4 linked regions of the Homo sapiens genome follow. The protein of the gene in region 4 purifies or fractionates together with the protein of the main gene of each other region. This does not show direct contact. Each region holds a gene or a part of one and is shown on either strand. Other genes may lie near its edges.

What was found.
Region 1: the proteins of RBPJ (region 4) and WDR70 purify together in Homo sapiens (affinity purification with mass spectrometry; 4 studies listed by BioGRID and IntAct, with this or other methods). This does not show direct contact.
Region 2: the proteins of RBPJ (region 4) and MAML1 purify together in Homo sapiens (co-immunoprecipitation; 14 studies listed by BioGRID and IntAct, with this or other methods). This does not show direct contact.
Region 3: the proteins of RBPJ (region 4) and ZNF268 purify together in Homo sapiens (affinity purification with mass spectrometry; 4 studies listed by BioGRID and IntAct, with this or other methods). This does not show direct contact.

Annotation. Positions count from the first base shown.
Region 1 is NC_000005.10:37,374,326-37,382,336, reverse strand, and holds the start of WDR70 (WD repeat-containing protein 70), read right to left. Parts: upstream 3,020-8,011; 5' UTR 2,970-3,019; coding exon 2,945-2,969; intron 2,849-2,944; coding exon 2,783-2,848; intron 736-2,782; coding exon 652-735; intron 1-651.
Region 2 is NC_000005.10:179,728,346-179,735,840, reverse strand, and holds the start of MAML1 (mastermind-like protein 1), read right to left. Parts: upstream 3,020-7,495; 5' UTR 2,729-3,019; coding exon 2,414-2,728; intron 1-2,413. Other genes in the region: CANX (calnexin), read right to left, coding at 7,197-7,250. UniProt on the Homo sapiens protein: Acts as a transcriptional coactivator for NOTCH proteins. Has been shown to amplify NOTCH-induced transcription of HES1. Enhances phosphorylation and proteolytic turnover of the NOTCH intracellular domain in the nucleus through interaction with CDK8.
Region 3 is NC_000012.12:133,177,290-133,184,502, reverse strand, and holds the start of ZNF268 (zinc finger protein 268), read right to left. Parts: upstream 3,009-7,213; 5' UTR 2,817-3,008; intron 2,558-2,816; 5' UTR 2,506-2,557; coding exon 2,473-2,505; intron 1-2,472.
Region 4 is NC_000004.12:26,414,992-26,422,013, reverse strand, and holds part of RBPJ (recombining binding protein suppressor of hairless), read right to left. Parts: intron 6,540-7,022; coding exon 6,374-6,539; intron 1,464-6,373; coding exon 1,289-1,463; intron 1-1,288. UniProt on the Homo sapiens protein: Transcriptional regulator that plays a central role in Notch signaling, a signaling pathway involved in cell-cell communication that regulates a broad spectrum of cell-fate determinations.

The sequences.
Region 1 (8,011 bases), on a different chromosome or scaffold from region 4:
CACAAGGTCAGGAGTTCGAAACTAGCCTGGCCAACACAGTGAAACCCCATCTCTACTAAAAATACAAAAAATTAGCTGGGCGTGGTGGCATGTGCCTATAGTCCCAGCTACTCGGGAGGCAGAGGCAGGAGAATCGCTTGAACCGGGGAGGTGGAGGCTGCAGTGAGCCGAGATCATGCCATTGCACTCCAGCCTGGGCAACAGGGCGAGACTCCATCTCAAAAAAAAAAAAAAACAACAGTGATAAGTAGCATAACAACATTCTTTTCTCTCTTTGTTCTCTGAGATGGAATTTCACTCTTGTCCCCCAAGCTGGAGTGCAATGGGGGTATATCAGCTCACTGCAACCTCTGCCTCCCGACTTCAACTGAAGCCACTGCCTCAGCCTCACGACTAGCTGGGATTACAGGCCCCTGCACCATGCCCAGCTAATTATTGTATTTTTAGTTGAGATGGGGTTTCACCATGTTGGCCAGGCTGGTCTCAAACTTCTGACCTCAGGTGATCTGCCCGCCTTGGCCTCCCTAAGTGCTGGGATTACAGGCATGAGCCACCGCGCCCAGCCAACATTCTTTTCTCTTTTTTAATATACTTGCATGAGGTATACATAGTACTTAAACCAATAAAAGAACAAATATCTGAGCTTCTTACCCAGTGTTTTGCGACTTCTTTCCACAGCTGTCCTTCGAGTTTGTTCAAACATTGCTTCCAAGTCAAATGTGCGAGCTTTTTTACCTAAAACATGAACAAATGGGAGACTGTGATTGTCTTGCAGTAAGTTGGCCAAACTTTAGGTGATCAATACTGATCAATAAACACTTACTTTGTCTAGTTTATAGCATGGCTCCAATATAACCATAATATATCACAGAAGAAGGAGTTTGAGTCACAGAAAACTTCTGCTGACAATCCCTTCACTAAGTACTATTAACCAGGCAACTTTCCCATCCTCCTCTAGATCCCTACCCTATGAAACAACAACACTGATGTGGGGAGGCAAAATGGAGAATGCCCCAAAAGTTACCCTTTGCAATATAATTAAGGTTATGGACTTTTAAATAGGGAAACTATCCTATTTGGCCCTTAAAGGCAAAGATGCAGAACAGCTATGGCAGAAGAAGTCAGAGAGATCCAATGTCTGAGAAGAATTTGAGGCATTATAGTTGGCTTGAAGACGAAAGGGGCAACATGAGAAGTAATGCAGGTACTTTAAGGAGCTAAGAGGGAAACAGAAATCTCAGCCCTCTAACAAGGAACTGGATGAGCATGGAAACATTCTCCTCCTCCCCCAGTAACTTTATCAAAACTCTTAAAATTTTCCCCTATTTGGCACAAACATATGGACAACTTTCTCACTCCTGAGTAAAGGAATGATGTACTAAAATGAAGGATTTATACCGGGTGGGGTGGCTCATGCCTGTAATCACTTTGAGAGGCTCAGGTGGGCGGACTGCTTGAGCTCAGGAGATTGATCAGCCTGGGCAACATGGTGAAACCTCGTCTCTACCAAAAGTATAAAAAATTAGCCAGGTGTGGTGGCACACATCTGTGGTCCCAGCTACTCAGGAGACTAAGGTGGGAGGATGGCTTAAGCCTGGGAGGAGGAGGCTGCAATGAGCGAAGATCGCACTAGTACACTCCAGCCTGGGTGACAGAGCGAGACTCCATCTCAAAAAATAAAAAAAGAATAGAAAAGGCTGGGCACAGTGGCTCACGCCTGTAATCCCAGCACTTTCGGAGGCCGAGACGGGCGGATCACGAGGTCAGGAGATCGAGATCATCCTGGCTAACACGGTGAAACCCTGTCTCTACTAAAAATACAAAAAAAAAATCAGCCGGGCGAGGTGGCGGGCGCCTGTAGTCCCAGCTACTCGGGAGGCTGAGACCGGAGAATGGCGTGAATCCGGGAGGCAGAGATTGCAGTGAGCCGAGATCTTGCCACCGCACTCCAGCCTGGGCGACTGAGCGAGACTCCGTCTCCAAAAAAAAAAAGAATGAATAGAGAAACTACAGAACTAGTATGTGTGAACACAACCCAAGGCCAATATGTGTAAGTCTACTGTTTAATTACTATCATAGAATTAATACACGCTGGTCAAAAGAAAACAAGAAGACCTTGAGAAAAGGTTCAGGGAAGTTAGAATCCCAATGTTTGGATGAACAGCATTTATAATTTTAAAATGGAAAATAAAGAGAAATCATTTTTCATGTATCAGTCTACTAAGTTTTGTTTTCATTTTTTAAATAATTTTCTTTTTAAATAATAATACCTACTCTGTGTTGGTAGGGATATGGTAAAAATGGCATTCTTAATTCTGTTAACTTTGGTATAACCTGGAACAAGTTTTTTGATGGGTATTACGGCAATAAGCATCAAGAAGCTTTAAAAGGCACATACCCAATTTTTCAGCTTTTTAAGTATTTATATTTCTGAATAAACTACACTCTCTTTTAGAAATCTACCCTACCGAATTACGTATTTTTAAAAATCCTCGTACAAATGCTGTTATTTACAAAAATGTTCATTTTAGCATTATTGGTGACTTAAAATTAGAAAAATCCTTTCTCTTCCTCTCTCTCCAGACTCTCATAACTGTCATCTGAGTTGGTTCCAACGGATAACGCAGAATAGAAGACAAATGGGAGAAGAATATTGACAAACTGCAAGGTATGCACCCGAGCTACAATAATTCCGAGTTGACAGCTCGATCTCCACTCCCACTCTGCGGATCTTCAAACCTCTGCACAAGGAAGAGGGTCTCTGCCTGGGGCAGTCACTCACCGAACCCCGTGAAGCCCATGGTGACCGCAAGCTGCGGGTCCGGTCCCGACGCGTCTGAGCCTGTCACTGGAGCAAGAGGAAAAGAGAGGCGGCCTAGTTAGTGCGGCGCCCCAGCTCCCCCGACACGGCCCACCCCGCCCGGACTCGCCTCATGAAACCCACCTTCGCTGGGCCCAGAGCGCTCCATGGCTGGCCGCACACCCCAGAACCAGCCACAGGGACAGCCCAAACAACTGCAGGGGAACTTGCCAATAACTTGCGGCAAATGCTGGAGGAAGTACCGCCTTCAAGCTACAGCGGCGCCGCCGAAGCCAAGAGCGGCGCCTTCCGCAGAGGGACCGCGGCTTTCTGCGCGGCACCGCCCTACCGGACAGGCGGGAAAGCGCCGCGCAACTCAGACCACTGGAGGGGAGAAGTAGTATCTGGAGTTTCTATAACATCCTTTCCCTTTTTTTTTTTTTTTTTTTAAGCCAGAGCCTCTGTCGCCCAGGCTGCAGTACAGTGGCGTAATCTCAGCTGACTGCAACCTCTGCCTCCCGGGATCAAGCGATTCTCCTGCCTCAGCCTCCCGAGTAGCTGGGATTACAGGTGCCGGCTAATTTTTGGTTTTTTGTTTTGGTTTGTTTTTTTTTTGTTTTTGTTTTTGTTTTGAGACGGAGCCTCTGTCGCCCAGGCTGGAGTGCAATGGCGTGATCTCGGCTCACTGCAACCTCCGCCTCCCGGGTTCAAGCGATTCTCCTGTCTCAGCCTCCCAAGTAGCTGGGATTACAGGCGTCCACCACCACGCGCAGCTAATTTTTTGTATTTTTAGTAGACACGACGTTTTGCCATGTTGGCCAGGCTGGTTTCGAACTCCTGGCCTCAAGTGATCCGCCTGCCTCGGCCTCCCAAAGTGCTGGGATTACAGGCGACACCCTTTGCTTTTTTTTTTTTTTTTTTTTTTTTTGAGGCAGAGTCTCACTCTGTTGCCCAGGCTGGAGTGCAATGGCGTGATCTCGGCTCACTGCAACCTCTGCCACCCAGGTTCAAGCTCTTCTCTTGCCTCAGTGTCCTGAGTAGCTGGGATTACAGGCGCCTGCCACCACACCCGGCTAATTTTTGTGTATTTAGTAGAGACGGGGTTTTGCTATGTTGGCCAGGCTGGTCTTGAACTCCTGACCTCAGGTGATCTGCCCACCTTGGCCTCCCAAAGTGCTGGGATTACAGGCCCCGTGCCACCGCGCTCTGCCTTTTTGTTGTTGTTGTTGTTGTTGTTGACTGAGTCTCCCTCTGTTGCCTTGGCTGGAGTGCAGTGGCGTGATCTCAGCTGACTGCAACCTCTGCCTCCCAGGTTCAAGCGATTCTCTTGCCTCAGCCTCCCGAGCAGCTGGGACTACAGGTGTGCGCCACCATGCCCGGCTATTTAGTATTTGAGACTACAGGCACCCGCCACCACGCCCAGCTAATTTTTTCTATTTTTAGTAGAGGCAGGGTTTACACCGTGTTAGCCAGGATGGTCTCAATCTCCTGACCTTGTGATCTGCCCACCTCAGCCTCCCAAAGTTCTGCGATTAAAGGCGTGAGCCACTGCACCTGGCCTGTCAGTCTAAAGTTTACAAGGCTAATCGTGTGCTCAGGATTGTCCTTCTTAAACAGAATGTGGGAGTTCAACACTTTAACGTTTAGAAGGTGGAGAAGAATCTCTTTCTTTTTGAGACAGAATCTCACTCTGTCACCCAGGCTGGAATGCAGTGGCACAATCTCGGCTCAATGAACCTCCACCTCCTGGGTTCAAGCGATTCTTGTGCCTCAGCCTCCTAAGTAGCTGGGATTACATGTGACCGCCACCACACCCGACTTTTTTTTTTTTTTTTGAGACAGAGTCTCGCTCCATTGCCCAGACTGGAGTGCAGTGGCGCGATCTCAGCTCACTGCAACCTCCGCCTCCTGGGTTCAAGCAATTCTGCCACAGCCTTGCGAGTAGCTGGGATTACAGGCCCTGCCACCACCCCTGGCTAATTTTTGCATTCTTAGTAGAGACAGAGTTTCACCATGTTGGCCAGGCTGGTCTCAAACTCCTGACCTCAAGTGATATGCCCGCCTCAGCCTCCCAAAGTGCTGGGATTACAGACGTGAGCCACTGTGCCCGGCCTAATTTTTGTATTTTTTGTAGAGATAGGGTTTCATCATGTTGCCCATGCTGGTCTTGAACTCCTGAGCTCAAGCGATCCACCCGCCTCAGCCTCCCTAAGTGCTAGGATTACAGGCGTGGGCCACTGCACACAGCCTATGAAAGAATATCTTATACCAAACCTTGTACCTTTGGCGCTAAGCTGGATAAGAAGTGAGCATCTGATCAGCCAAGTCCACTGCTCCCATATTATCGTTATAATCCACAATGACACATGGCTTCTTAGTTTTCTTTCCATCTGTTGTCTACTTCAATCACAGTATCATTGTGGAATATTGACAACATTGTGACTGCCTTGTTGTCACACCATTTCAGTGCCATAAGTTCACCATGGAATTAACATCACACATAGGAATGCTATGTTTTCTAGGATTTGACATTTTCAGCAGTCGAGAATTACTATATTTTGTAAATGGAAATTCCACTACTAAAAACAGAATGCTATAAATAGAATAATGTCTTTTGTTTCCAAAGTCAATATAATAGAGTGATGCAAAAATAATAAAATAGTAGACACAAACTTTGGGGGTTAAGTCGGGACTGTAATCTGTGAGTTATCTTGGGGTAAAGGCTGCAGCTGCAAGCACCATCAGAGAGTATTCTCAGGGAAAATGGGAAATGGGTTAACAGTGGGTAAATCTACGGTGCCTGTAGTGTATTCGTTTTTTTGTTTTTTTGGTTTTGATACAGAGTCTCGCTGTTGTTGCCCAGGCTGGATTGCAATGGCGCAATCTTGGCTCACTGCAACCTCTGCCTTCCAGGTTCAAGCGATTCTCCTGCCTCAGCCTCCTGAGTAGCTGGGATTACAGGCATGCGCAACCAGACCGGCCAATTTTTTTTGTATTTTTAGTAGAGATGGGGTTTCCCCATGTTGGTCAGGCTGGTGTCTAACTCCTGACCTCAGGCAATCTGCCGGCCTCGGCCTCCCAAAGTGCTGGGATTACAGGCGTGGCCCACCACGCCCGGCCAAATTCTTACAATTTTATGTTGTCTTAGCATTTATTTTGAATATAAGTTGGACTTTCTCATATCAGAAACAGGGTTCAGTCACCCTTGACACCGTTTCTAGTTCTACACCTCCTCCCAGTTCCTCAATGTGATCAATCCAGGTATCTATTGTGTAAAACTTCCTCCTGGTGCCCGCCTCCCCATAGGATAAATACATACAGCCTACTTCACCGGCCCTGCTGACACTGACGTCCTACATGGACTGTGCAGATATGCCACAGTGACTACCTCGGTCACAGCATGACTTCCAAGAACGGGGTGTCCAATCTTTTGGCTTCCCTAGGCCACAATGGAAGAAGAAGAATTGTCTTGGGCAACACATTAAATACACTAACAACAGCTGAGAACTTTAAAAAAATCACAAATCTCACAATGTTTTAAGAAAGTTAACGAATTTGTGTTGGGCCACATTCAAAGCCATTCTGGGCTGACAAGCTTGTCCTCAAATTTGTGCATGCTTGCTTTAAACCCACCAATTAAAGTGTGGGAATTCCTCTTGGGAAATCTATTTGGAAAACACCATGAACCCAATAAATGCATTGGCTCATGAGTCCCTCTTTGTCTTTCCCTGACTGCATTCCTTGACCTCCAGGTGCGCCAGATGCCCCGCCAGGCATGTAAGTAATAAAATCTTTGTTTATATCTGTGTTTCTACTAATCATTGAAGAAGCATGCTCTATCTTAAAATTCCTAAATTAAAACAGTCCCTTAAAATAAATCAAGGCAGTAGGATTCAAAATGTTGTAGTAGTCACTGTATTTTTCAGTTACATAGGCGTTGTAAGCAAAATCAGTTTCCCTTAGGAATATCCTTAATAAAGCCATAAACAGTATTCATTTCGTTAAACCCTGACCCTTAATTATACGTCTTTTTAACCTTCAGTATGACAAAATGAGAAGTAATCATAAAGTATGTTTTTAAAAAAATTTCTTACAGATGGGGTCTCACTGTGTTACCCAGACTGGAGTGCAGTGGCTATTTACAAGTTCAGTCATGAAGCACTTTAGCCTCAAACTCCTGGACTCAAGCGATCTTCCCCTGCCTCAGCTTCCTGAGTAGATGGGACCACAGGCATACGCCACCATGCCCAGCTAATGCATATCTAAGTAGAATGGTCATCGAAAAGAAAACCACTTGTAATTGAGTGGTTAGCTTTTTTCATGGAACATTATTTTTACCTGAAAGAATGACTCACAAAGTACAGTTGTTCATATTTAAGTATTTGGCAAACATTTTTTCAAAAATAAATGAAATGAGTTTATCACTTTAAGAAAAACAGGTCAGGCATGGTGGCTTACACGGGTAATCCCAGCACTTTGGAAGCCGAGGTGGGAGGATCACCCAAGGCCAGGAGTTCGAGACCAGCCTGGCCAACATGGTGAAACCCCGTCTCTACTAAAAATACAGAAAATTAGCCAGGCGTAGCTGGGTGCGGTGGCTCACGTCTGTAATCCCAGCGCTTTGGGAGGCCAAGGCGGGTGGATCACCTGAGGTCAGGAGTTCAAGACCAGCCTGACCAACATAGTAAAACCCCCGTCTCTACTAAAAATACAAAAAAATGAGCTGGGCATGGTGGTATGTGCCTGTAATCCCAGCTACTCGGAAGGCTGAGGCAGAATTGCTTGAACCTGAGAGGCAGAGGTTGCAGTGAACAGAGATCATGCCACTGCACTCCAACCTGGGCAACAAGAGCAAAACTCCATCTCAAAAAAAAAAAATAAAGAAAAGAAAATTAGCCTGTAATTCCAGCTACTCAGGAGGCTGAAGCAGGAGGATTGCTTGAACCTGGGAGGCAGAGGTTGCAATGAGCTGAGATCGCACCATTGCACCCCAGCCTAGGCGACAAGAGCAAAACTCTGTTTAAAAAAAAAAAAAAACTGACTGCACTTGTTGACAATTATTAAAATACTTCTTCTTTTTCTAAATATGTAACTGAGGCCAGTTTTTCCTTCTTTCTTTCTTTCTTTTTTTTTGAGACAGAGTTTCGCTCTTGTAGCCCAGGCTGGAGTGCAATGGCACGATCTCAGCTCACTGCAACCTCCGCCTCCCAG
Region 2 (7,495 bases), on a different chromosome or scaffold from region 4:
TAGTGTGCGCCTGTAATCCCAGCTACTCAGGAAGCTGAGGCAGGAGAATCGCTTGAACCGGGGAGGCAGAGGTTGCAGTGAGCAGAAATCATGTCACTACACTCCAGCCTGGGTGACAGGGCGAGACGCTGTCTCAAAAAAAAATAAATAGGCTAGGTGCAGTGGCTCACACCTGTAATCCCAGCACTTTGGGAGGCCGAGGTGGGTGGATTATCTGAGGTCAGGAGTTCGAGACCAGCCTGGTCAACATGGTGAAACCCCATCTCTACTAAAAATACAAAAATTATTAGCTGGGCATGGTGGCCAGCACCTGTAATCCCAGCTAGTAGGGAGGCTGAGGCAGGAGAATCACTTGAACCTGGGAGGCGGAGATTGCTGTGACCCTAGATCGCGCCATTGCACTCCAGCCTGGGCAACAGGGCAAGACTCCATCTCAAAATAAATAAATAAATAAAACAAATAGCATAGATAATATGTTTCCTAAATGTTTTGACAAAGGAGATTCTTACTGCTGTGGGTTAGGCTGGTCAGGAACTAGCTTTAAGGCAGAAGAAAGAGATAAGCTGGGACTGGCAGGGTGGCAGGATTCTGAAAGGGATGGAGGAGGGTCCCACAGGCGGCCTTTAAATTTATGAAATACTGTATTTTATTTATTTATTTATTATTATCATACTTTAAGTTTTAGGGTACATGTGTACAATGTGCAGGTTAGTTACATACGTATACATGTGCCATGCTGGTGCGCTGCACCCACTAACTCGTCATCTAGCATTAGGTATATCTCCCAATGCTATCCCTTCCCCCGAAATACTGTATTTTCATGTCCACACTCATTTCTTTTTATTCTTAAAAGAATCCTGGGGGCGGCACGGTGCGGTGGCTCATGCCTATAATCTCAGCACTTTCAGAGATCAAGTTGGAAGAAAGGATCACTTGAGCCCAGGAGTTCAAGACCAGCCTAGGCAATATAGTGAGACCCCATCTCTAACAGAAAAAAAACTTTTTTTATTTAGCCAGGCATGGTGATGTGCAGCTGTGGTTGATCCCAGTTACTCAGGAGGCTGAGGCGGGAGGACTGAGGAGGCTGAGGCGGGAGGATTGAGGAGTCTTGAGCCAGGAAGGTTGAGGCTGCAGTGAGACATGACTGTGCCTCTGCACTCCAGCCTGGGCGACAGAGTGAGGGGAGGGCAGGGAAAGAACACGGGGCGATAATAAGCCCAACATGCCCCTAGTTTACAGATGAGAAAAGTGAAGATGAGAAGGCTTGACCAGTTGATACAATAAGCAATGAAATCTGAGTGGTTTTTTTTCTTCTAACCCAGCAATCGAGGCTAGTGTGGAAGAGAATGAGAAAAATAATTCAACCAGAGCAGAGGACCTGTGAGGGACATTAAAAGATAGGTTAGGTCAGACTGGTCCCAAATGCCAAACTAAAGACTTTGAACTTCATCCTTTCAAGCAAGAGAAGGATTTCCAGCATTTCGAGAATAAGGGAGAAAGAAACTAAATGCCTACAGACTGGTTAGTTAGCTAGGGACAGGCACTGCAATAGCCCAGGTGAGAGATAATAAAGGTATGAATTTAAAAATACACATAACAAATTAGATTTTAACATTGGTTTTAAACTAAAATCCCCAAGAAAACCACTGAAAAACCTTGTCTCTTTTGTAAATCTGTTTCAGGAAGAAAAACCTCTAACCAACAAATTTCAGGAACATTTACTGAGAGCCCAAAGGGAGTAATAATTGACCAACAATCTAACATCATCAGAGATTTTAAACAGGCCTGATAAATTAAAACTAGAATTGTCAACAATATTGCAGGAATCTCAAGTTCACAAAGTTCAGGCTACCTAAACAAGGAATACTTATATGCAACTCATTGAACATTTTACTAAGTTTTCCAAAAATTTCTTGATTTTCCATTCAGAGGAGTTTCAGTTGGTCAACCAAAGGCCGACTTATTTCCACATGAAAGCCCTGATCCTGCTCACAGCACAGGATCTTGTAAAGGGCAAGGACCCAATAAACATTTGCAGAATAAATGAGGCCAGGCCTACGGTGCAGGAACTCCCTCCATCACAGGCGACTCGAATGCTAGTCTATTTCGAATAAAGATCTCAACATCCCGGAATCAAGTCTGGAAGAAAAACCCTCCGGTTAGCGTTCGCCAGCCTTCCCAGGTCGGGCCTCCTGCAAGGCCCTCAAGGCGCTGTTTTCCCAAAGTAACGCCACCGTGCCACTTCCCAAAGATGACAACCTCTCAGCTCCCTGCCATGTTACCCTCTCTCCAGCCAGATCCAGGAGTCGCGGACGCCTGGGGAAGTCTCCCAGCGGCCCGATCCGCGTCAGAGGAAGCGTTTTCGGGAGAGGGGGCTGCCGCCACGACAAGCGCCTTCCCGCGCCCTACTCACCGTGGCCGGGCGGCCGTGCTCGGGGCCGTCAGCGGCGTCCAGGCGCGGGGCCGGGGCGGCGGGCGCCGGGGCCGTGGCGGCGGGCGGCTGCCTGTGCTTCCCGGCGCGCTTGGCCTTGGCCTGGATGCAGCGCTGGTGCAGGGCGAAGGTGTGTTGGCGCTCCAGCTCCAGGCGCTCGGGCGACACGGCCTCGTAGCGGGCCTCGCAGGTGCTGTGGTGGCGCCGGCACAGCTCGATGCGCCGGCGAAGGCGCTCCATGACCGCGCTGTGCCGCGGCAGCGCGAACTCCGCCATGGGGCAGGTGGGCAGCACCATGGGCCGCGGGCTGCACGGGCCGGGCCCGGGGCCGGGCCTCTCGGGGCCGGCTGGCACTGCGGGCTTCGCTCCCCGCGGCTACCCCTCTCCGCCTCACGGCCGCGCCATGCCCCCGAGGGCAGCGGAGCGGGCTCGCGCGCGGCGGCGGGTTTTCCTCCTGCCCCGCTCGGCCCGACCCCCAGCCGGCGCTTGCTGCCTACCTCAAGCCTCGGCCTCTCCCCACCGCCCCGGCCCCATTGTTTTCCGCGCTACCGCCGCGGCCGCCATCTTAAAATTGTTTTCGGGCCTCTCGGAAGAAGGCGGGGCCTCGGTAAGAGACCTTGTGCATCACGACTGATGAGCAGGGGCCCTGGCCAATCAGAGAAGGAAGAACCGGCCGCCCGAGGGCGTGGGGACGAGCACGCAAGAGGCGCGCTCGGGCGCCAGAGCGGTATTTAAAAGGAATTCTCAAGCGAAGGGCGGAGGGAAGCCCCTGGGCGGGCCTTAATCCTGGGGGCGGAGCTAAGCGTGACTGACAGGAGCCCGTCCAAGAGGCGGCTATTGGTTTCCTGCACAGCACCCGCTGAAGGCAGGCCCTTCCGGCTACCCCGAGAAAAGGGGAATCTGGCAGGCGAGTGCGGCGCAGCTGGCCAGTCCCTGTCGCCCGCCTGGCAGTACAGAGACCTTTTTTTTAAATTATTTTTTAAATTTCGACTTTGATAAACTCTAAGTAGCCACGCTATTTTAATGTCAGCCGTTTTACTTTGACCTTATTCCTTGTATCCAGCCCCATAATTGGTCAGAATCGTCTAGTGAGCTGGTAGTTTCCTCTTGCAACATTCCGAATCACTGGTAGTTTCCACCTATTTGTAAAAGCCCGAGCAAGTTTCAAAAGTGCAGTATTACTCACTACTTAAAAAAAAAGTCCAGAAGATGTGAGCAAAAGCATGCAAGAGTGCAGCTCCATTAGAGGGAACTGGAAATGCAAAGGACGACGTTTCACCACAACCACCGCCTTCCAGGCTCAAGCGATTCTCCTGCCTCAGCCTCTCCAGTAGCTGGGATTACAGGCATGCGCCACCACGCGCGGCTAATTTTGTATTTTTAGTAGAGACGGGGTGTCTCCATGTCGGTCAGGCTGGTCTCCCACTCCTGACCTCAGGTGATCCGCCCACCTCGGCCTGCCAAAGTACCGCGATTACAGGCGTGAGCCGCCGCGCCGGACCAAAAACAGTCCTTTAGGTAAAACTGAGTTACTCAACAAAACCAAACCAAGACAAATTATGCCCCATTATTAAAACTAATAGGCAAAGGGGAGTAGAGGGACTGGAGCAATCAAACAGTGTTAGTACTAAAACTAGATAGTGTGATGCCAAAGGATATCAGGAACTCTAGATATGGGCACTCTAATTGCTAAAAGGTTAAGCAGGAGGTGGCAGGAGGCTGCACATTGAGATACACCATCAGTAGTTCAAACATTCGTTACTCTAGCTTTTTACTAGGGCTCATGAGGTTTTATTTTAAAATCAAGAGAAAACAACAATCAAATATGTCTTCATACAAACGCAGCAGAAAAATACAAATCCTAATGTTTTAAATGGAGAAAGTGGGCCACCAAGGCAAAAGTGCCATAATGCAGTCCTGCTTTTTTTTTTTTAGCATTCAAACAAATTTTACACCAGAACTAAACTATTTCTTAATAGAAAAAATAGTAACTAGGAGCACTACATTCTGTGTACATACTTTTCTTTAGTATGTAATCTAAAAATTTAATAGCACATAAAAAACTGGGCTAACTTTCAAAAATACCCCTAAAGTATTTAAGTATATGTAAAATAATGGAGTCTGATTCTGAACAAATAATTTTCTAATAAAAATTTCAAAGTTCAATGGTTCCCCTAAGTCTTAAAGAATATTATCTACAAATTATCAGTAGCATTCCCTCCTTTTCTGAGCTGCTGTCCACACTATTATACAACAGAAACTACTGCACCGCAATCACATGGGCAGGAAGAGGCAAGGGCTAGACAGAAAAGACTGCATCAAACTCACGTGGTGAGATAAAAGTCATTATTTCACTGTCCATAATAGTTTCTGCCTAGTAGTGAACTCTCACATAGTGGCCAATTATACGAAGATCAACCCACTAATTGAACATAGTCACACACACACACTGAAGGTTACTATGAAGAAATTCAGTCAAAAGCAGACACTTAACACAGGGCTTTAATGTAACACCATTTAGTAACATGACAAATTGAAAAGTGAGGAGTACTTTGTGGATAAGAAAATGGAGGAACACATCTGATGGAGAGTGGGCATTTGACAACAATGGAACAGGTAACCAGCATGTAAAATCAAAATATAAGTGTCTTTTTAAGAGCTGAAAGCTGCTGCTGGTCATTCATTAATGTGTCAGACATTTAATCAGGATGCTGGACCTTCAAAATAACTGAAAAAAGAACCAAGAAAAGGCGTTTTTGTTTTCAACAAACTTTACTAAATAACCCTGGAAAGGCAATGAACGATCTGACAATTTAAGCTCTAATGATTTAAAGCTCAGCTAGAAGAAAGTGAGGCATGACATATACTGTCAACGGAGGGTGAAGGAGGCAGATTTCTGGAAATGCAATGATCCCACACATTTGCTTCAAGGAGAAACCTGCAGACATATTTTCAGGTCTTGCTAAGTAACAACTGTTTATTTGTAATCAATACATTTGGGAAAGTCTGCTATGTAGCTAAGGTCACTGTGACCACAGAACAACAGATGAAAAGGAAAAAGCACTGAACAGCAAGAAAAATACATCCCATCCTCAAAAGAATTTAAGTGAACAAACTTTAAAAAGAAAAAAAAATAGATACAGCCTTCATCTTTTACAAATATATTTCCTTCCCAATATCTTCCCAATATAAACACTGTGGAGTGTTTATATATTCAGTGCAAGAAACAGTATCATCGGTACATTTGAAAGCCTCTAAAGAACAACTGAAGCTAAAATAATATCTAACTCTGAATACGTTTCAGTGTAGAGTAATAATAACATTATTACACTATAGTGGTGTGGGAGAGGCTCTGATAGCACCCATCTGCATCCCGCATGAAAAAACAAACCTAAGATCACTTTTTTAAAAATTCTACAAGCCACGTTAAAAAAAAATTTGAACAGGACTGCTTTATTGTGTAATTTATGACACAACTGTTACATGAATTGCAAATGAAGGCTTAAAATATATAGCAGCTACAAAAAAAATCAGATAACTCATGCTTCATGTCACTCCTCCCACAAATACTTCTAGTCTGTTCAACTGCAGTCAATTCTGTATTGGTTTGCCTGTGAATTAGACTTCTCAAGTCTTTACACAGAGTAAAAGAAATGGATAAAAATCAAAGTATTTTTCTGTACTTTGTATCAATGTATTCTATTCTGTACTTTGACCCTGGAAAGGTATGGGTCTGCTTAAAAGAAAGAAGAAACATACACGTAATCACAATAAAGCTTAACATTATGCAGGGCTTATAATCATTTTCAGCAACGGACTGCAAGCTGCACTGTGAAGAAAATGCATAGCAGAGGAGAAAGCTGGGGATCTGAGGAAATAGGTAAGGAAAACAGTGTCAACACACAGTGGAAGAAGTGATGAAGACATCTATTCCGGAGCTCACGTGCCATGCCCTGCTAGCATTCCTTAACAAGCCACCTGCTCCAGAAGGCCACAGCCTGACCCTCCCAAGTGGAATATAAATGCCCAAGTGCCACATGAAGCCACCTCCTCCACTACCTAAAAAGCTGTCTGGGAACTGAGCTACAGAACACACACACTTTCTGGTCTAACAAACATCAAGTGAAAGAATTTTTTCTTATATATCTATTTTTAATACAACTTAAACGCAACTTTTATATGAATTTGGGCTTCTATTCAGTCCCTCTCCTCAATTTCCTTAGGAGGAACTCAATAATGGAAGCAAACAAAACAAGATTCTAACCACAAATGACTGCACTTTAAACGTAATTATCAATTTTGAGGGACAGAGGTGTGAATGTTTTACAATACCAAACTTTAAAAAAAATCTATTATAAAAACTGCAACTCATCTCCCTAACATTTTTAAATGGTGGTATTATGTTTGCACAAACAGATTAATACATTAAATTAAGCCAAGATCTTAAAGACTGGCAAAGTTCTATCATTCTATTTTAAAAACAAAGATGTTAAAAAAAAAAAAGTTAGTTTGCTTCATGTTACATTTCACAACCATTATGTTAAATGTTTTCTTTTCTACAGAAACAGGGTCCTTTATATCACAACTGCAAGTATTTACTGCTAGATGTTTAAAGTTACACAGACTAGTGTTCAACTGGAGCCTGCTGATGGTGATGTCTTGAAGTTTTCTGAATGTCAACCTAAGGTGTGCCAGGTCCTCTCCTAGGACCACTCTTGCAGGGGAGGAGGGAGAAGAAATCACAGATCAAGCTCTTAAGATTGTTTCACTCTCTTCGTGGCTTTCTGTTTCTTGGTGATCTGTTCAAAATTTCATCCTCCTATTGATTGAAAAGAAATTCATTATAATTAGCACATTTAAAAAATAATAAAAGTTCACCATATTTTCAAGATCAGCCAGACTGAGGGTAACTTATTTGAGGAAAAAAATGAGGAAAATGATGAGAAGAAAATGCACCAAGAAGAATGGTTGTCTCAGAGGTGGTGGAATTATGCCTACTCTAATTCAGTTTAGTCTTTATTGTTTTCTATAAACATACACTTTTCTCAATCTAACCCATAAACA
Region 3 (7,213 bases), on a different chromosome or scaffold from region 4:
CTCTTTGGCCATGTGAGGACACAGCATTCTTCCCTTTTTGCCCCCTTCCACCATGTAAGGATGTAGCAAGAAAGTGCCATCTTGAAAGCAGAGAGCAGAGCCGGGTGCGGTGGCTCACGCCTGTAATCCCAGCACTTTGGGAGGCTGAGACAGGTGGATCATGAGGTCAGGAGATCGAGGTCATTGTGGCCAACACAATGAAACCACGTCTCTACTAAAAATACAAAAAAAAAATTAGCTGGGCGTGGTGGCACACGCCTGTAGTCCTATTTGGGAGGCTGAGGCAGGGGAATCACTTGAACCCGGGAGGCAGAGGTTGCAGTGAGCCAAGATCGCGCCACCGCACTCCAGCCTGGGGACAGAGAGAGACTGTCTCCAAAAAAAAAAAGAAAACAAGAAAGCAGGCCTCATCAGATACCAAATTCACCAGCACCTTGATCTTCAACTTGTCAGCCTCCAGAATTGTGAGAAAGTAGTATCTGTTATAAGTTCCTCAGTCTGTGATATTTTGTTACAGTAGCACAAACAGACTAAGACAATGATCTAATATTACTTGATCTCCCTCATACATGTCACTTGACAAGCATTTTTGAGGTTTCCATTTCTTTAAGTGTGAATTACATGTCTCTATTTTGTCTTACTTTTCTTGGGTTCCATCTCAGTCTTCAACACCTCTTCCCCTGCTTTCTCTTGTCATTTCCCTGACCACTGTCCTCAGTTCTCTTCTTAGGGTACACATTCTCCCTGAGCTACTTTGGCCACACCTAATTTGCAACCTCTACCTAGAGGAGCCAATCCATACAAAACTGAAATCTTCCCCCTCTACCAATCACAATTCTGACAGTCTTCCCTTACTCAGCAAATGGTGACACTCCCAACCAGGCCCACAGAGTAGAACTCCAGTTGTCATCCCTGGCTTTTCTGCCTCTCTTAGCACTGCACCCAACTAGTTATGAAATCTAATTTCTTCTGCCTCTTTACCTCCTCTCCTTTTTTTTTTTTTGAGACAGAGTCTTGCTCTGTCACCCAGGCTGGAGTGCAGTGGCGCGATCTCGGCTGACTGCAACCTCTGCCTCCTGGGTTCAAGCGATTCTCCTGTCTCAGCCTCCCGAGTAACAGGGATTACAGGTGGGAGCCACTGCACCCAGCCACCTCCTCTCCTTTCTCAAAACCACTAATTTACTTAAACCCTTATATTCTCTTACCTGCTGCAGACTAGACTGTTCTACCCTCAAATCCGTTGTGAAAACACTTCAATAAGTAAACTCCTTCCCCTATACCAACAGTCCCCAACCAGGGACTCGTTTTGTGGAGGACAATTTTTCCATGGACGGGCAGTCGGGTGCGGCGATGGCTTCTGGATGAAACTGTTCCACTTCAGATCATCAGGCATTAGAGTCCCATAAGAAGTGCGCAACCTAGATCTTTCGCATGCGCAGTTCACAATAGGGTTTGTGCTATGAAAAGCTAATGCAGCCTCTGATAGGAGGCGGGGCTCCGGCAGTCATGCTCACTAAACCGCCACTCGCCTCCTGCCATGCACCCCAGTTCCTAACAGACCACAGACTGGTACCAGTCTGAAGCGTGGGGGTTGGGGACCACCTGCCCTATGTGATACAATCCAAGTTTTTAATGGGGTCCTCAAAGCCCTCTATGATCTTAGGCCTACGGCTCTAGCCTCATTTTTTAATATAACTCTACTATCACCATTAAACTCAACATTTTAGCAACCCTAAAGTGCCCAAAGTTCACCACATGAGGTCATTTCAAGCCTCTCAAATTTGCACGTTACTTCTTTTTCCTAGGCTGGTTTTAATCCTTTGTCTACTTTAGGTTTGTCATCTTTCAAACCTAAGGTTAAGAATCTCTTAATCATTGAAGCATTTGGGAGTAAGGGGTTAGGGGGTGTCCTTACTTCCAAAACTGACCCATTCCTGCATGTCTCCGTGTATTTCCACAGCCTGCTCCCAGAGCACTCATTAACTTGTCATTGTCTTTCTTATCCACCATTCCTAGACCACTGTTCTTCAAGACAGGGATGATAAGCAACCCATCTTTGCATTTTTAGCACCTGCCCCAGGGTCCAGCAAACAAAATACAATAAAAAAAAATGTTGAACAAGTGAATAAAAAAGTTTGTAATTTCCAAAATAAGGTTTAAAGATCCCAGATACAGAAGGCCCTCAGTAAATAAAGGCTGAAAAAACTGAAAGATGTGTGAGTATCCCTTGTTTAACTCCAAAGTTCAGCGTACAAAGTTGTTAGAAAAGAGATTGATGAAAGGAGGAAAAAAGGAAGTCGGATGACAAGAAGCATTTCTGGAAAGTCTAACATGCTATAAATGACGATCCAGTTGCCTAAAAGAGCGGTGGGGTGAGAAAGCTCCTGGCAAATTCAGACTGGAGTAGATGGAGTGCGCACACGTTGGCATTCAGGGAGAGCTTTTCAAGAATGAAAGAAAACCCCTACTCACCCAAATAGAAGCTGTCCGGACCCTGGTGGCCATCCCTACGGTCAGTTTTGTGTGCCTCGCTGGAAGTGACAGGACGCGAGGGATGCTAGAAGAGAGAGCACAGTGAAGAAAGAGGTCACCCAGCAGTCCCCAAACCCAGAGGGGGAGGGTCCGAGGCACCAGGGCTGCCTGCCATTCTCGGAGCTGAGGCTCCTTCCCTCCCACAGCACGGGATTCACCATCTCCACACCCTCACCAACACACAGGTTAGGGTCAGGCAACCGCCCCGGGTCAGCAGCAGGAGAGAGCTAAGGCAGATTAGTTCTGTCCCGTCCCGCCGCCTTGAAACCGGAGGAATTCCGCACCTCCGGCTCCTCCAAACCCTGAAGGGGCAGCAGAATAGAGTCCAGGGTACTGCCTCCACCTCCAGATCTGCAGCCAGAAGGGTTCGCAACCACTCCAGACTCGGCTGGCCCGTTGACCACGACGGGCGATGAACGCTATCTGAGGAACAAGGATCTCGCCATCGGCGCGGAACAATGGCGGCCGCTACGTATGTCGCACAGGAATTGCGTCATGGAGAGGCAAAGGCAAAAAAACTACAACTCCCAGAGGCCTCTGCGAGGAGTTACTCCCGCGCCGGAGGGCTCCGGCCAAGGGCCACCGGGAGGGGGCGTGCTAAGATGACCCGGAAGCTCAGGCCTTCCTGGCCAGGTCCCTGAGCTCCCGCGCTTGCAGGTTTTAAATTTTAAAGAGAATTAAAATACTTGACACCAATGGCTCAACGGTTGGAGGGATGTAAATTAGGTTACAAGTGTTCTAGTCCCTGCTTTACTGAAATGGTAAAAGTCTTATTTTGCTTTACACTTTAATAACAGATTCGTAAAATTCCCATTACATGTTAACATAAATAATATTTTAATGAAAATTACATATATTTTACAAAAGAAAAAATTTAGTAAGGAGTGGCTTCGCTTTTTAAGTCTTTTCTGACTTACTAGAAAGCTGGATTCTCATATCTGCTTCTATGTTTAATCTGTTGCGTATGTTGTTTTTGTTAAAGTATATAAAGATACAAGTCGAACAAGGGATAGTTTTGTTAGTGTACAATCTGAAACCACGTAGATGAACTTTTTCTACTCTATTACATAAAATCCGTTGGTCTACACTGCACTTTGAATGGATTCTTTTATCACGCATGATTTCGTAACATCATGTATTGGCCAGTTGGAAAATATTGGTTTACTTTAATGGCAAAAGCCGCAATTACTTACTTTTGCACCAACGGAAAATATCCACTAATCATTATTGATCTTAAGTATTGGGAAGAGGTGACATTCACAGAGGCAGATACAAGTTTTCTAGAATTCTTTTGTTTTTGGCTTTTAAAAACTTTTATAAATTTATGAGGTACAAGTGTAATTTTGTTACATGCATCAGTTGTGTAGTGGTGATGTCAAGGCTTTTAAGGTATCCACGCCCTATAGTACGTTATATGCATTGTACCAGTCAGGTAATTTATGATTATCCCTGAAACCCCCCCACACCTTTTGAGTCTTCATTGTCTATCATCCCACACTCTACATCCATGTGTACATATCCTTTAGCTCATACTTAAAGTGAAAACATGTGTTTTTCTTTCTGTGCCTGAGTTGTTTCACTGAAGATAGTGGCCACTAGTTCCATCCATGATGCTGCAAAAGACAATTTCATTCTTTCTTATGGCTGAATAGTATTCCATTGTGTATATATAACACATTTTCTTTATTCATCCATTCATGGACATTTAGGTTAATTCCATACCTGTGATATTGTGAATAGTGCTGTGATAAACATATGAGTGCAGGTATTTTTTTTATATATATAATGATTTCCTTTGGGTAGATACTCAGTAACAGGATTGCTTTATCAAATGGTAATTCTATTTTTAGTTCTTTGAGAATTCTCCACACTGTTTTCCATAGGTTATACTAATTTCACTTTCTCACCAACAGTGTATAGGAGTTTCCTTTTCTCCACATCCTCACCAACATCTTCTTTGTCTTTTTATTTTTATTATTTTATTTTATTTTTTGAGACGGAGTTTTGCTCTTGTTACCCAGGCTAGAGTGCAGTGGCCCGATCTCGGCTCACCGCAACCTCCGCCCAGGTTCAAGCAATTCTCCTGCCTCAGCCTCCTGAGTAGCTGGGATTACAGGCATGCACCACCACACCCGGCTAATTTTGTATTTTTAGTGGAGACAGGTTTCTCCATGTTGGTCAGGCTGGTCGCAAACTCCCGACCTTAGGTGATCCGGTCACCTCAGTTTACCAAAGTGCTGGGATTACAGGCATGAGCCACCGAGCTCGGCCTGTTTTTGTTTGTTTTGATTTTTTTTTCCTTTTGAGACGGAGTCTCGCTCTGTCGCCCAGGCTGGAGTGCAGTGGCGCGATCTGGGCTCACTGCAAGCTCCGCCTCCCGGGTTCACGCCATTCTCCTGCCTCAGCCTCCCAAGTAGCTGGGACTACAGGGGCCCGCCACCACGCCTGGCTACTTTTTTGTATTTTTTAGTAGAGACGGGGTTTCGCCGTGTTAGCCAGGATGGTCTTAATCTCCTGATCTCGTGATCTGCCCGCCTCGGCCTCCCAAAGTGCTGGGATTACAGGCGTGAGCCACCGCACCCGGCCCGGCCTGTCTTTTTAATAACAGCTACTGTGACTGATGTAAGATAATATCTCTTTTTTTTCCCCCACAACCTCGCTCTGTCGCCCAGGCTGGAGTGCAGTGGCTTGATCTCGGCTCACTGCAACCTCCGCCTCCTGGGTTCAAGCAATTCTCCCCGCCTCAGCCTCCCAAGTAGCTGGGATTACAGGTGCCCACCACCATGCCCGGCTAATTTTTGTATTTTTTATGAGAGACGTGGTTTCGCCATGTTAGCCAGACTGGTCTTGAACTCCTGATCTCAGGTGATCTGCTCACCTCGGCCTCCCAAACTGCTGGGATTACAGGCGTGAGCCACAGCGCCCGGCCTCATTGTGGTTTAAATTTGCATTTCTCTGATGTTTAGTGATGATGTTGAGCATATTTTCATATGCCTGTTGGCCATTTGTATGTCTTCTTTTGTAAAGTGTTATTTGTGTTCTTTGCCTGCTTCTTAATGGGATTATTTGGGTTTCGTTGTTGTTGTTGATCTGTTTGAGTTCCCTGTAAACTCTAGATATTAGTCCCCTCTTGTATGCAAAGCTTGCAAAAATTTTCTCCCATTCTGCAAGTGTCTCTTCACTCTGCTTACTGTTTATTTCACTATGAAGAAGATTTTTAGTTTAAGTCCCATTTCTCTCTTTTTCTGTTTGTTGCATGTGCTTTTGAGGTCTTAGTCATGAATTATTTACCCAGACCAATGTCCAGAGGGGTTTTCCGTAGGTTTTCTTCTAGTATGTTTATAGTTTCAGGTATTCCATTTAAGTCTTTAATACAGCTTGAGTTGATTTTTGTATATGGCGAGAGATAAGGGTCAAGTTTCATTCTTCTGCATATGGCAATCCAATTTTCCCAGCACCATTTATTGAAGAGGTTGTATTTTCCCCATGCTTGTTCTTGTTGACTTTGTCAAAGATCAGTTGGCTGTAGATATGTGGCTTTATTTCTGGGATCTCTATCTGTTCCATTGACCTATGTGTCTGTTTTTATACCAGTACTATGCTGTTTTGGTTATTATAGCCTTATAGTATAATTTGAAGTCAGGTGAAGTTATGCCTCCAGCTTTGTTCTTTTTGTTCAGGATTGCTTTGGCTGTTTGAGCTCTTTCTCGGTTGCATATGAATTTTAGGATTTTTTTTCTTTTTCTTTTTCTTTTCTCTTTTTTTTTTTTTTTTTTTTTTTTTACACAGAGTCTCACTCTGTCACCCAGGCTGGAGTGCAGGGTCATGATCTCGGCTCACTGCAACCTCTGCCTCCCAGGTTCAAGCAATTCTCCTGCCTCAGCCTCCAGAGTAGCTGGGATTACGCGTGTGCACCACCATGCCCGGCTAATTTTTGTATTTTTAGTAGAGATGGGTTTTCACCATGTTGGCCAGGGTGGTCTTGAACTCCTGACCTCATGATATGCCCATCTTGGCCTCCCATAGTGCTGGGATTACAGCTGTGAGCCACCGCACCCGGCCTAGGATTTTTTTTCTCTAAATCTGTGGAGAATGACGTTGATATTTTGATAGGGAGTGCATTGAATCTGTAGATGGCTTTGGATAGTATGATAATTGTAACATTATTAATTCCTCTGAACAGCATGGGATGTTTTTCCATTTGTTTATATCATCTACAATTTCTATCATCAGTATTTTGTAACTTTCCTTGTAGAGAGTTTTCACCTCTTTGGTTAAATGTATTCTGAGGTGAGCTTTTTGTAGCTATTAAAAGTAGAATTGCCTTCTTGATTTTGTTCTTAGCTAGATGTTGTTAGGGTACAGAAATGCTACTGATTTTTTGTTTTGATTTTGAATACTGAAGCTTTCCTGAATTCATTTATCAAATCTAATACTTTTTCAGTGGCATCTTTAGGTTTTTCTAGATATAAGATTATATCATTTGCAAACAGGGACAATTTGACTTCCTGTTTTCCAATTCAGATGCCTTTTATTTCTCTTGCCTGATTGCTCTGGCTAGAACTTGCAGTACTATGTTAAATAGCAGTAGTGTAAGTGGGCATTCTTGTCTTGTTCCAGTTCTTGGAATGTTTTCAACTTTTCTCTCATCAGTATGATGTTGGCTGTGAATTTGTCATAT
Region 4 (7,022 bases):
GAAGGAAAACAAAGGTGAGAGAGGGTGAGAAGAAACTATTACAGACTAAAATGTGTGGACCTTATCTGAATCCATGTTTGAACAAACCACTGTAAAACAAAACAAAGCAAAAAAACTATAAAAAGACATTCTGGGTCAATCTGATAAATCTGTACATGAAATAGGATATTAGATGACACTTAAGAGCTGCTGTCAACTGTTACGTATAATGATGTTTCAAAAAAAAGGGCATGTATTAGTCACTATTGCAGAAATTTTGGTTGAAAGGATAGGATGAGATTTACATTAAAATACTCCAGCAATTAGAAGACGAAGAGGTGTTGGTGGTGATGGAGATAATGAAACAGAATTGATAAAACCTGTTGAGGCTGGGTGGCTAATTTCTCCCTTTTATATAAATTTGAAAGTCTCAGCCAGGCATGGTGGCTCACGCCTGCAATCCCAACACTTTGGGAGGTCGAGGTGGGTGGATCACCTGAGGTCAGGAGTTCAAGACCAGCCTGGCCAAATGGCGAAACCTCATCTCTACTAAAAAATACAAAATCAGCCGGGCGTGATGGTGGGCACCTGTAATCCCAGCTACTCAGGAGGCTGAGGCAGGGAGGATTGGTTGAACCCGGGAGGTGGAGGTTGCAGTGAGCTGAGATCCTGCCACTGCACTCCAGCCTGGGCGACAGAGTAAGAGTCCATCTCAAAAAAAAAAAGAAAAGTCTCCATAATAAAAAGTTAAAAAAAGAAAAATGGGTGTGGAGGTTAAATTTATAATTCAAACATACTTGTTTGGTAGTCTAAAAATAGGCTGATGAGACAGCAGTCTCTGCCAGAGCAACCACATTAAAAATTGTGTTTAGATTCTCAGGAAGGCCTGCCAAAGCCCATTTAGTTGGTAGCGTTTTTCAAAGGGGTACTTGTTGACATTGTGGGTAGATCAATTCTTTGTGGAATGGGAACTACCTTGGACACTGCAGGACATTCAATTCAGCACCACAGGCTCAAGACACCCAAAGCCAACATCACCCCCTCCAGTCACTGTAACAACAGAAGGAGAAAATCTCCCATTTCCCCAGAATGTCCCTGGGAGCATTAAGGAACCAACTCTGGTTAAGAACTGCTTCATTAGACCACATACTGTCGATTTACGATTAAAAAAAGAGAGACAATAAAGAGGGCCACAAAAATATTAGTAAAGAATTAATTGGCTATTGAAAAGGCAATTTTTAATTTAAAAAAGAGTCTGTCTTATTAATTCATGGTGGCAGTTGGGGATAAATAAGAAAAGCATACATACAGTCAGCATTTTTCAATGACTGCTTCTTTTTGGAAGGTTTGGAGATGACTTTTATCCGCTTGCTGAGGAACACACCAATGTCATCACTGTTGCCATAGAACATCTTTACAGACAACATGAAGTGCTTTCGCTTGTCTGAGTCAGATATATACAATGTTTTGGCTGTGCAATAGTTCTGTGAAAGAAAAGTAAAGTTTTAACAGCAGCAAAACCTTGTTTGTTTATGTAGTACCTAAAACTCAGAATGGCCATGGTTTAAGTAATAAGTAAAACAATTCCAAGGGATAGCTGATAAAACCAACTCTAAAAATTATCAACTATAAAAATTACTGAAATTGATTTCGGAAAAGTACAAAGTCTTCCTTATAAAGTCTGTAGAACACAAACATTGTCATCTATTGTATCCTCTTTAAAAGACCATTTAAAAAAACAGCCTTTTCTTGTTTTACATAGCTCTACAACTGTATCATGGAATTATCACTCAACGTTACAGCAGTAACTTTTAAAATAAATTTTACAGTTAAAAAAAATCAATGACTTTCTCCAAAAAAAAAATAATAATAAAGCTATCAGAATTCAAGAAATTATGTAAAAGATTTTAGCAGTAGTTCTTCTCAAAATAGTGCATAAAATATTTTTCTTTATATAGCTGAACACTAGAGTAATCACTTATAAGATTGAGGAAAACAATGATAGACAAACTGGATGATTATAAAATATCTTAAACCAGAAAGAGATTATATAAGCATTACTTTAAAGAACTATTTTTAAAATGGTTAACTTTGCCCAAAAGGACGATTCATATGTATCACCAGAAGAACTGAATTTAAAGGTACTAGAGAAAATGCTCAAGGCATTATGTCAGTTTACCAGAATTTAAATTCTGATAACTGAAAAGATAAAGAGATATAGCACTTTACAAACAGCAAAGACCCTTCAAAATGCTACTGCTTATATTATATATAACAATTCTAAAATCTTTCCTATTCTCTTGATCCCTGTGAATCAGGGAGGGGTCTAAATTATTGTCCTTTTCCAGATAAGATAAATGATGCTGAAACACAGCATAAGTATCTAAAGTATCGAATTATATTTTTTAAAGGATCAACATTCCACTTTAAAATTAAGCTAAACAAGTTTCTTCAACTGCCTCTCCTGTATCTTCCTTTTAAAAAGCAGAGCAAATGCTACTCAGGAAACAGTTAATGACTTCTAGGTTTTTATCTTTAAAATTTTATTCACAGACAGCCTCGGTAGCAGACAAAACTACTGCAATAGTTTATTGTATTTCTCATAGCAAAGCTATATAAGAAAATTTAGATGCCATCTTGAACATTATACATTTAACTAAGTTTTTAAAAATCAAAAGTTTGGTAAAAGCTTTGAGAGGTTTTGCTCTGTAGAAGGCAAAAATAAGATAAAGCCAATCATAGTAATAAATAAAAACAGGCCAGGGTGGTGGCTCATGCCTGTAATCTCAGCACTTTGGGAGGCCAAGGTGGACAGACTGCTTAAGTCCAGAAGTTTGAGACCAGCCTGAGCAACATGGTGAAACCCCATCTCTACGAAAAACACAAAAATTATCCAGGCATGGTGGTGCATGCCTGTAGTCCCAGCTACTCAGGAGGCTGAGGTGGGACGGTCGCTTGAGCCCAGGAGGCAGAGGTTGTAATGGGCCGTGATCCCACCACCGCACTCCAGCCTGGGCGGCACGGTGGCACCCTGTCTCAAAATGAATAAAGATAAAGAAACAAAAAACAACAGTACTTTGCAGTCACATCACTCCTTGCACCCAAGATCTCTAACGCACTCAGAGATGGCATCTGTGAGCTGCTATACCCATAGGTCGGCCATACTCTTAAAAGTGACAGACAGCATTGAAGGTCAAATTAAGCCTAAACAATGAAATTCTTCTGCAACATAAGACGAGGTCTATGAAAATGGGTATCAATGTACTAAAGCAGACAGTCATGGGAAGCAAAAATGAAATTTATATCTAAATGAAGGTAATTACATTCTAATGGGAAAGCTTAAAAATGTTGAGATGGCTTTTGAGTGTTAAAATTAAAAGGTAAGATCCATATCAGAAAGAGAAAATACTGAAATCCAGCATAAATAAGACATATTGGCAAACAAGAACGGAAAAAAAGAACCAAGAAGGTTGGATCATAAGACCTACACAAAAAGAACTGCATTTTGTTCGGAAAAAACAAACACACATATATCTCCTTGGAAAGAAAGGAAATATATCCCTAATTACAATGAGTAGTTTGAATCCACAAAAATCATAATCAAGATAATTTTATGGGAACTATTAGTTTTAAAAAACTATAAGGCCACTGACCACAAACTACTCAAATTCCATTAAGAAAAGAAGGAAAAAGTCACTGACTCATAGAAAATAAGCAAATAAAACTAAAATTACATTTGCCTTGCTATTGCAAAAGGTTAAATTAGCTAACGGAATTCTAGAAGAGAAAATGGCATATAATCATCTCTCTAGAAATACTCTTTGAAAACAAGATCTTTAGGCAATAAAAGACATTTCCCTGAAAGAAAGAAGAAATACCAAATCTAATGCTGCAAAGTGATACTGCAGAAATGTTTAAATTATAGAAACAAAATGTTACCAAGAGTATATGATGTTTAAAAATAAGAAAAACACAAGAGTGTTAACTAAGTCATCCTTGTTGCGTAGCTTACCTAGCTGTGACTATAAAAAATGTAAATTTTTTTAACAAATTAAAAACATTACACAAAATCTAAGATCCAACATATTACCTACATACAGCCAAATGTCATGACCATAAATTTAAAGGGCTAGATATACTAGAATTTTGTTGCAGTGAATATTTAAAATAAGTATAAACACCAAAAATTGCAAAATGAATATCCCATATTTCTCAATAACTAATTGTACCACTCAATGAACAGACTATTTCCTTACACGAATGGAGTTTAAGTGAGGCAGACAAGAGCAAAGTGCCTCTCACTGAAGCTCAGAATCCGCTGCTCAGGACATCTTTGCCTACCTTGGTCAAAACCATGTTCTTATACCTTTATGCTCTAAGCACATGATTATATTGTTTTTTTTTCTGCCTGGGATGCCTTCTACTAACTCTCACCAGTCTTGCTTTACATAAACTTCCCTAATAGAATTTTTCCTTAAAATTAAATATTAACATATAATTTTGGCTTACAGACATTGTACTAACCTATTACTAGGTATTTTAAATACTAGTTAAATGCTCAAGCTCTCAGGTATTCTATTCCTCTTCTGCCAGTTTCTAGGCCTTGGGGAAAGGGTATACTAGTGGAAGTTGAAGAAAGATATAATGAAAAACAGCAGAAAGATCTCCATGTTGAGGCAGCCCCTAAAGGTACAAAATTAGGATGTGGCACTACTAAGCCACAATGCTGCGAAAGGCAAGCAGTGATACTACTGGTTGGTTTATTTGGTATCACCTCATTTAAAATTACTGGAAGCTGGAACTGGTTAAAATGAGCAATGAAGTAGGATTAAACAGTTATACACACAGGTAGCTAGAATCCCTGGCTTCTCACTACCTATCTGATCCACTCATTCATAGTACTGAATGTCTACATGTGAAGCCTGGAGACATATAACTCTGAGACTTCCTAGGTAACAAGAAAACAGATGAGACAAGACTTAAGATCTATTAGATCAACCCACCACTTAAATATATTCGTTACTTTAGCTCAGGGATCATAATTTAGAAATAGTTTTAGTGGTTTAAGATGAAACAATCTTTATTGTAATAAGTATTATCCCAAATCTAATTTAAAATACATAGTCAACAAATCTTACTTACAAAAACTATAAAGATATAAATGACATACAAACAGCTAAATTTGAAGGAGGTTGACATTAAGACCTGTAGTACTATCTGTAAAATCACTAAAATTCAATTTGAGAGTACAAATCCCCTAGCTCACCTCCACCAACACTACTCCCAACCCATATACCTAGTGCCAACTACAACATAGCAAACACTAAAATATTCAACAAGGATGTATCAAATAATGAAACAGCTGTTTATGCGCTATTTTAGAAGATGTTTAGTCATTGAGATCAGAACTAACCATTTTCCAAAGTACAGTAGCAAGGAAAAATAAAACCATAGCTAAATTCTAAGTGAATAAAAAACTATCTTTCAATACTAAAAGTATAGATTGGCTGGACACGGTGGCACACACCCGTAATCCCAGCACTTTGGGAGGCTGAGGTGGATGGATTGCTTGAGCTCAGGAGTTCAAGACCAGCCTAGGTAACATGGCGAAACCCCATCTCTACAAAAAAATACAAAAAAGTTAGCTGGACATAGTGACACACACCTATGGTCCCGCTACTTGTGAGGTGGAGGTTGCAGTCAGCCAAGATTGCACTATTGCATTTCTGCATGGGTGACAGAGTAAAAACCCTGTCCCGGGGGAAGAAAAAAAAAGATCTAGATTGACTGCTTTCTAAATTCATACAATATAATCAGTAAAACTAGCTGATAGATTGTTTTCTCTAGAAAATTAATTGAAGAACCCCTGCCACGCACTAAAATTTGAGTAAAGCCAACTGTGGCTGTTCTTGTCTACAGTATCACTCTGCTTCACTCTGATGTCAAGTAAACGTTTATGATCGTTATAACCCAGATAAATGCTTTCCACAATGTATATATCATCGTGTCTAGTATAAAACTAAGATTAAAATAGCAGAGTAAAACATTACTGAACAATGTATTTTTGTTGATAAACCTCTGTCAAACAGAAGATGAGCAATCAGCCTCCTAAATTTATTACTGGCTTCCAATAGAAATCTGATTTATAGTCTGCTAAAACTGCTTGCAAGCTGGGGAAGCTTACTGCATGCCACCTTCCAATGTCAGCAGCGTAAGCTTCATGAGTGACTAGACCAAAGCTATGAGAGGCATGTTTTTTGGTCCTAGTTTATATATTCAAGAAATTGTTACCAATAGTTATTAAAGAAAAAAATCTCCACCACAAAAATGAATATGAAAACTACATTCTGGTACCATGGTGCCCCTTTCTGGTGAACTAGCAGTCTTGATTTACCTTTCCTTCCAAGTTTAGCTGCTGCATTTCTTGGTCACTATTTCCTATCCCAATAAATGCACACGGTTGAGACTCTTGTTCAGAACAACCATCGCGTTCCATTTGTTCTTTTTTTTTCTTCCATCCACTGCCCATAAGATATACACAAGGAGGTGGGCAAAAAAACCTGAAGAATAATAGGGGAAAAAAAAAAACAAGAAGCAAAAATCAATTAGATTCAATAAAGCATTTCCTTTCCTTGAACATTATGAATACAAAATCATATTGAAATGCACCTATTCCCCAATGAAAAATTTTGGTGAAGCCTTTTGTAATGCAAATAATCATGCCCACAGGACAGAAATCGGGACTTCCACAATGACTAAATCTGTTCAGGCAAAATATTGGAGTTATGCATACAGTTAGATTAAATACTTTTTAGAGTACAGAACTTCTCTTTGTATGGCTCAGAGTTCTAAATTACCAGAGTTCAGCAAATCCAGTGTACTCTAACATATTACAAAACACGATAAACCACCACAAAAATCTGTAATTACTAATTAAGGCCTATTCAAAATGACACAATCATTAATGAGTGACATTACTATTATGGATACTGCATTTAACTTAATGTGGTAATTAACCTGGAAAATTGTGTTAGAGCATTGTC